Linked DNA regions of Homo sapiens: all the other regions are linked to region 1. Evidence: fine-mapped expression QTL. A gene starts in region 1. Each other region holds a variant in brackets. All regions are shown on one strand. Distances are between the middles of the regions. Region 1 holds the start of CCNC (cyclin C). Region 2 overlaps USP45 (ubiquitin specific peptidase 45). Region 3 has its middle 190 kb from the start of PRDM13.

What was found.
Region 2: its variant is fine-mapped to the expression of CCNC in whole blood (TOPMed, PIP above 0.99).
Region 3: its variant is fine-mapped to the expression of CCNC in whole blood (INTERVAL, PIP above 0.99).

Annotation. Positions count from the first base shown.
Region 1 is chr6:99,567,173-99,569,941 of GRCh38, forward strand. CCNC (cyclin C) reads right to left here and starts at 1,488. Exons shown (of 12, transcript NM_005190.4): 1 at 1,324-1,488. The coding sequence starts at 1,355. It also overlaps the pseudogene TSTD3. RefSeq lists enhancers at 1,186-1,265, 1,386-1,675, 1,796-1,845.
Region 2 is chr6:99,480,287-99,483,055 of GRCh38, forward strand. It overlaps USP45 (ubiquitin specific peptidase 45), which reads right to left. Exons shown (of 18, transcript NM_001346022.3): 8 at 2,467-2,597. Among named protein-coding and RNA genes, the nearest start is that of USP45, 34 kb to the right of the region's middle. The variant T/C (reference allele first, on the strand shown) is at 1,571.
Region 3 is chr6:99,798,414-99,801,182 of GRCh38, forward strand. No RefSeq gene overlaps it. Among named protein-coding and RNA genes, the nearest start is that of PRDM13, 190 kb to the left of the region's middle. The variant T/A (reference allele first, on the strand shown) is at 1,362.

The DNA.
Region 1 (2,769 bases):
TAAGGCAGGATCTTTTTTTTTTAAGTTGAAAAACTGAAAAATCAACAGTCAGCTACTTGTCAATTCTCTCAGCTTCTTTCAGAGTTTATCAGAATATCTCTTCTCCACTACCTAAACTTTTTTTTTCAGGAGCTCTAACTCCAATACCTAAACTTTCGATACTTTAATTTTGCCCAAGCAATATTTCAGTGTGTGAAAACAATGCAACATATATACACACACATATATATATACATACACACACACACATATATATACACACACACACATATGATCAGTGGTAAAGCTTCTTTAACATGTCATCTCCACAGAATCACTTTATAGCAAGAGGAAAACCTGCTTTTCCTTAAATAGGTTACTGAGTTCATTGTTTCTTTTTTTCTCTTTGCAAAGGGCTAAAAAATGAACATCAGGAACAGATCCTATTCACAGAATCGAAATTTAAATTACTTACTAATGCTTTCTTAGCATAAAAAATTATACCAAGATACCTTGTCAAATTCTGTTCATCTTTCAACTATACAGTGGAAAGCCTACTCAAATGTTCAATTTACCCCATAACGCACCTTCCTGCCTGCTTAAACAAATGTATTTAGGGATAAATGTTTTTAATATTATTCTAGCTCTCACATGGTCACTGACAGAAACAAGAACTTATTCATGAAAAAGGTTAAAGAAACAGGTAAACAAAGTCACTGGAAAAATAGGCCTTTAAAACAAAATATAAAGCACAGGCTAATGAAATGGATAAATTTAGAGGGCACCTGCCCTATACCTTATCAATATAAAACTCCATCTAGACATAAAGTACGCGCAAGAAGCGGTTAGTAGGCAGAAACAAGCCAGACTCTCTCCTCTCCTCATAATATTAAATCCACTCAAGATATACAGTGAATGACAAAAGACCACGACGCCGATCACCCGAAGAAACCCCAGGTAAAAGCACGCCACAACTGTCCTGAACAGGTAGCCTCACAGTCTTGAGCTGAGTCACACTTCCCGTACCTGTGCCCACTCTATCCGACCCCCCGCGGCCTAGCTAAACCAAGAATCCGAAATTAAACTCCGAAACGTTCCTTCCCGGGAGACGAAACTCTCTCCCACCCCTCCCCCTCACAGATCCTTCCCTCCCCGAAACTGGGGCTGGGGGCGGGGAGGGGAGTCGCCTCAGAAAAGCGCATCTTGATTCTGACCGCTGCGGTCTCCCGTGAGGACCCCGGCACTCGGAACTGAGCTGGGATCCAGGCCCAGGGGAGTCACAGGCCCCGTCCTCACAGCTCCCCCAAAAACCGGCCCCAGGTGAGAAGACGGAAGATCGCTTACTAGTGGGAGCTCTGCCAAAAGTTCCCTGCCATGGAACACAGCTTGCCCTGATAAAAAAGCACCAGCCGGCGGAGCGGCCCGCGGAGCGACCATAGACCCAGCCCGTCCGGTAACCGCGCTCCTCGATCAAATCAGCTCGGCTCGACTCCGCTCCGCGGCGGCGACGGCGAAAGGAAGAGGATGGCCCCCTAGTCTCCTTCACGCCGGCCGACAACACTCAACTGTGCAAACCCGTTCCTATCGACAAAAGTTCCGGCCCGCGGTAGCGGAGGGAGCCGGAGGGGAGGTGCTGACCCTTGGAGGTGCTGAGATTGAAGAGAACTAGTGTTCACGAGAGCTCGCGGCGGTTGGAAGGCTCTCGCGAGAGCGTCTTGAGAATTCTGGCCGGGGGCCCAAGCCGCTCGGTCTCCTGTCTTCAGCACGGGAGTTGCTGAGTGGGTCTAACCTAGGCGAAGTGGCTCAGATACGGGGTTCTGTTATTACCTCTTCCAGGACTTCAAAAACAGAACAATGTGGCATTGTAATAAAGTACAAGGTTTTGTGACTTATTTTTCCTGTGATTGGAAAGAGAAATAAATGAAGATGACTTTGTTCTCAGGGATCAAGTGTTCCTTTTTTTTTTTTACTTTATTTATTTATTTATTTTGAGACGGAGTCTTGCTCTGTCTCCAGGCTGGAGTGCAGTGGCACGATCCCGGCTCACTGCAAGCTCCGCCTCCAGGAGTTCAAGCGATTCTCCTGCCTCAGCCTCCCGAGTAGCTGGGACTGCAGGCGCGCACCACCATGCCCAGCTAATTTTTGTATTTTTAGTAGAGATAGGGTTTCACCATGTTGGCCAGGATAGTCTCAAACTCCTGACCTCGTGATCCGCCCTCCTCAACCTCCCAAAGTGCTGGGATTACAGGCGTAAGCCACCGCACCCTGCCTGTTTTTTACTTTTGAGACGGAGTCTGGGTCTGTCACCCAGGATGGAATGCAGTGGCACAATCTCGGCTCACAGCAACCTCTGCCTTTCCAGTTCAAATGATTCTGCTGCCTCAGCCTCCCAGGTAGCTGGGATTACAGGGATTACAGGCGCGTGCCACCACGTCCATCTAATCTTTGTATTTTTAGTGGAGAGGGGATTTCGCTAGGCTGGTCTGGAACTCCTAACCTCAGGTGATCCGTCAGCCTCAGCCTCCCAAAATGCTGGGATTAACAGGCGTGGGCTACCAGGCCCGGCCTGGATCAGGCGGTTTTTTTTTTTTTTTTTTTTTGAGACGGAGTCTTGCTCTGTCGCCCAGGTTGGAGTGCAGTGGCGCTATCTAGGCTCATTGCAACCTCTGCCTCCCAGGTTCAAGCGATTCTCCTGCCTCAGCCTCCCAAGTAGCTGGGACTACAGGCTCACACCACCACGCCCAGCTAATTTTTGTATTTTTAGTAGAGACAGGGTTTCACCATGTTGGC
Region 2 (2,769 bases), 87 kb before region 1:
AGATTCAACATTGTTAAGATGTTGATTCTCCCCAAATTGATCTACACATTCAAAACAATCCCAACTGACAATCTGATTCTATAATTTACATAAAAAAGCAAAGGACCGGCCAGGCGCAGTGGCTCACGCCTGTAACCCTGGCACTTTGGGAGGCCAAGGTGGGCAGATCACCTGAGGTTGGGAGTTCAAGACCAGCCTGACCAACATGGAGAAACCCCATCTCTAGTAAAAATACAAAATTAGCCGGGTGTGGTAGCGGGCGCCTGTAATCCCAGGCTGAGGCAGGAGAATTGCTTGAACCCAGGAGGTGGAGGCTGTGGTAAGCCAAAATCATACCATTGCACTCCAGCCTGGGCAACAAGAGCGAAACTCCGTCTCAAAAAAAAAAAAGAGGACCTAGAATAGTTTGAAAAGGATGACCAAAATTTGAGAACTTATGCTACTCAATTGCAAGACTTACTATGAAGCTACAGTAATCAAGACAGTGTAGGCTTTGGGGTAAAGACAAGACATGTAGATCAATGAAACAGAATATAGTTCAGAAATAAACCCAAACACATGTGGCTTAAATCTTTACTTGATTTTAAAAAAATATATTTGTCTAATGTATACTTCTTTTAAAAGTAAACGCCATAAAACAAACAAAAAAAAGGCAATTTAAAACTTTTCAGCCAAGCATGGATGACGCTCATGCCTGTAATCCCAGCTACTTGGGAGGTTGAGCAGGGAGGCATGCTTGAGCCCAGGAATTCGACTATGATTGGGCCACTGCACTTGAGCCTGGGCACAGAGCGAGACCCTGTCTCCTAAAAAATACAAAAAATACATAAAAATCTTCAAATAATGTTTGATCTAGTTATTCTAAGAATTTATCCTACAGATGTACTTCCGCAAGTACAGTGTATTCATACAAAACTGAGTAAGTTATACACACATGTGCTAACATGGAAAGATGTATAAAATATATCAAGCAAGTTGCAAAAAATTTGCATATGTCTGTGTATGTATGATCACTTTTGGAAAGAATCAGATAATAGTTACTTCTGAGGAGTAAAGATAGAGAGGAGTTTGAATTTTTATCTATGAGTGCCCATTATTTTAATAGTAATTTTTAAAATGTTAATAAACCTTTATAACCAGGAAGAAAACTATACAAAACAAGTTATTTCTGGCAAAGTCAGAAACAAATTTCTAAAGCATACAATGACCTAGTAACTTTTTTTGTTTTAATTTCAACTTTTATTTTAGATTCAAGGGGTACATGTGCAGGTTTGTTATCTGGGTATATTGTGTGATGCAAAGGTCCGGAGTACGAATGATCCCGTCACTCAGGTACTAAGCATAGTACCGAATAGTTAGTTTTTCAACCCTTCCTCCCTCAATCTCTCCCACCTCTAGTAATCCCCACTCTCTACTGTTGCCATCTTTATGTCCATGAGTACCCAATGTTTAGCTTCCACTTATGAGAACATGTGGTATCTGGTTTTCTGTTCCTGCATTAATTCACTTAGAATAATGGCCTCCAGCTGCATCCATGTTGTCGCAAAGAATATGATTTCATTCTTTATTA[T/C]GGCTGTGCTAAAAACTTTTTAACTCTGTGAGACACTCATGCCTCTGAGAATTTTGCAGGTTTTTTTGGTCCTCAGGCTTTGAAGAAACATCATTTGCCAACCAAATGAAACATACACTAAGCCCTCTATTTTGGACTATATTTAAAATATCATGGCATTCATTACTAGTTTTAATTAAAATGAGATTTTAAAGTCTATAGATATACAAAAACACAAGCTCATATTCAAATAATTTTCCTTCTACATATTTTAGTAATTGTGGACTGGACTAGCTTGTGAGTTCCATGAGGACAGGGTGCATTTGTGACGCAATATATGTTGTGTACCCCTGAATTGTAGCAAGTACCTCATAAAAAGCAAGCTCTCAATTTTTTATATAAATGAATACATGAATGCATTAAAGTCAAGTCAGATCCTTTATGTGTTTATTTCCAGGCACATAAGGATTTGGTTTTTAAACATACTGTAATACCTTGAGAAATTCACTTAAACTCTATTTGCCTCACAGCTCATCTTTTAAAATAAGAAAGCTAGATTAGATGTTATCTTACGGTACTTTCTAGATTTTACAACTCTATGGTTTTCTCACTTTATGGTATTACAACATAGGCATCCAAGTCAGGACAGATCTCCATTTGATTCTCAGCTTTTCACTCAGACTAGGTGAGCCATTTAATTTCTGTGTCTCCATTTCCTTATATATGAGGATAAGCTGCTTCTTCTGAGGACTGAGATATAATTTTCATAAAGCATAGAGCTGTAACAAATTTTAGTTCTCTTCATAGTCAGGGCAATAAGAGCAAAGTTACAGTAAAAACGACTATTCATGTTAAATGATGAATACATTAGTATTTTGTAACTCATAATTATTTATATTAAATGTAGATGCACCCACTTCTGACAAAGCTGATTAAAAAGAACTTTAGGAGAAAGTGGTCCTTTTTCAGTCTCCTTCATGCTGTGAAGAAACAGGAACAAGGCTGAGGTCAGTGGTCCAGGCCTTGAAAGTTCCACCACCAATGGGTCCTTTAAAAACATGATCAACTCTATGTCAGAAATGTACAATTTAAAAATAACATATTAAAAATCTGTGAGTTACACTCTGCTTAAATAACACCAACTAAATTGCCTCAATTGTATTAAGAAACTTTATTATTTCATAAATAAAATATATAAAAATGGAAAACAGAATACCTGC
Region 3 (2,769 bases), 230 kb after region 1:
TATAGTGTTGTGGTCAAGAATATCAGATCTTTTATCAAGCTATCTGTATTCAAATCTTGATTCTTTCCCAGTGGCTTGGCCAAATTATATAACCTCTCTCTGCCTTACTACCATTACTAAAAACATTACCATTGCTAAAAACATTTTCCATTTCTCATCATTGACATTACTTTTAGAGATGTGACACATTTATTATCTCATTTTTTCATCTGAAAATAGATCTATTTTATCTGAAAATGAGATAATAAATATATCGCATCCCTAAAAGTAATGGCAATGACAACAAAAAATGGAAAATGTTTTTAGTAATGGTAGTGTAGTTGGAACAAGCATGTAAACTTCCCAGATCTTTGAAAGATAACAATCATTTAGATATTTAAATTTTGAAACATTTGTTAATAAATCATTTATATTACAAGTTGAGTATTCCTTATCCAAAATGATTGGGATCAGAAATTGTTTTGATTTTGGATTTTATAATATTTGCATTATTTATTGGTTGAGCATCCCTAATCCAAAAACCCCAAATCTGAGATGCTCCAATGAGCATTTCCTTTGAGAGTCATATTAGTGCTCAAAAATTTTGGATTTCAGAGAATTTTGGATATTGGATTTTCAGATTATGGATGCTCAGCCTGTATTTCCTATGTCAAATCTTGGATACTTGTTGAGAAAATAAAATTTTACTTTAAAGGACAGTCTATTTTCTCACCGAGGGTCACAAAACCCATCATTTTGAATTTTAGTAACTGGATAAAGAAGAATAATTCTTTGCTTTCAAAAACTTTCAGTGAGACAACCAACTATTATCGAACCTGCTGCATTGGGTTATAATGTATGTAAACATGGGAATGATAATATTTCATTTTTGCCATGTAATAACCTCACAATCTCAATAATAAATCTTTGTATCCATGATCATGGGTCTGCCGTTTGGATGAGGATTGGTTGATCTAGGTTTGGCTTGGCTGGGCCAAGCTGGACTTCAAGTTCAGGTGTGTTACCTGTGTTTTCTTTCTGAGGTCCAGGTGGAAGGGGCAGCAACAACTTGGGGTTTGCCCTCATCATGATGGATCCCAGGATGGCAAGAGAGCAAACCAAACCAGGTAAACAGATTTAAAGCCTCTGCTCTTGTCTGCCTGCATTCATTGGCTTAAAAAAGTCACATGGTTAAACCCATTGTTGATGGATTGTGGAAGAATAGGCTGCCCACAGTAGGAGGCACGTGGCAAAGAAAGTAGAGGTATAATCTACTGGAGGTAGTAAAAATTGGAGAATAGTAATTCATTGTAACAGGAATTTTTAGAAAAATATTTTAGAAAAATATTTATTTCAAGATGGTATGCTTGATTAGTTTAGTG[T/A]CTTATTTTATTTTATTTTATTTTATTTTATTTTATTTTATTTTATTTTATTTTATTTTTTGAGACAGAGTCTTGCTTTGTTGCCCAGGCTGGAGTGCAGTGGTGCGATATTGGCTCACTGCAAGCTCCGCCTCCCGGGTTCACGCCATTCTCCTGCCTCAGCCTCCCGAGTAGCTGGGACTACAGGCACCAGCCACCACGCCTGGCTAATTTTTTTGTATTTTTAGTAGAGACGGGGTTTCACCGTGTTAGCCAGGATGGTCTCGATCTCCTGACCTTGTGATCCGCCCGCCTCGGCCTCCCAAAGTGCTGGGATTACAGGCATGAGCCACCGCGCCTGGCCATTTAGTGTCTAATTTAATCTGGAAAGTACAAAGTATGGATTTTCAAGTGTTGAATGTGGCTGAAACAATGCTATGTTGTTCATCAAACCTATTTCTTTTTCCTTTTGGGCATTTAGATAAACTGCATTTTCAGCCTTCCCTGTAGGTAAGTGGGACTGTGGAACTGAGTTCTGGCAAATGGAATGTGAGCAGGAGTGATGTACACTCCTTGTAGGCCTGCTTGGCTCCTATACATTTCATGAGATCCTCCACATTTCCCTCTTCCCTTGTCTTCTAGTTAGACGCTGAGGATCTAGGGGATGACTTTAAGATGCTAGAAGAAAGTGCTGAAACCACCAGAGGGAAGCAGCCCGAGTCCCTGAATCACCACATGGCAGGTTTCCTGTTGGACAACAGTGTGAACTGTGACATAAGAAAGAAATCAATTGTCTAAGCCATTGAGATTTGGGGATTGTTTGTTACCGGGCTTAGTCTACACAATTTAAAGATCATGAGGTGTTGAGCTGAATCAGAAAGTTTCATAAATCCTTTAGGCTATGGATAGGGACAGGGTCTTAATTATCCTTTTATTTTTTATACTTAGCATGCATTATATTTAAGAAATTTATTGCATTTTGCCTCATCAAGGAAACCCTTAAAACCAACTAATTTCATGGAGAAAGTGTCCTTTCTGCATCTCTTGAAACTTCACAGAGTGTAGAAATGGCTGCACCATATTTCTCCCAGATAATGACCATAAATCTGAAAAAGTCTCAATCCAGCTTTAGCCTTTCCCTACCTTTTGGTCACAGGAATCATACTTTCAGAATCAGAAAGAGAACTTGTCCATGGGAATGACAGAATATTTGGAATCTGGATTGCCTTGAAGAATCACCATATGTTTAGCAAGGTCTTTAGTTTAGCTTCATACCTCCAGTAGATTTTAGGGATCATTGCCATGGCAGTCTTTCAATTTCTCTTGGGACAGTTGATAAAATGAGCCAATGTCTACAGATTCATTATTGGTCATTAAAAACAAATATTTTTAATTCCAAGAATAGGGTAACTTCATCAACTCATGCAAA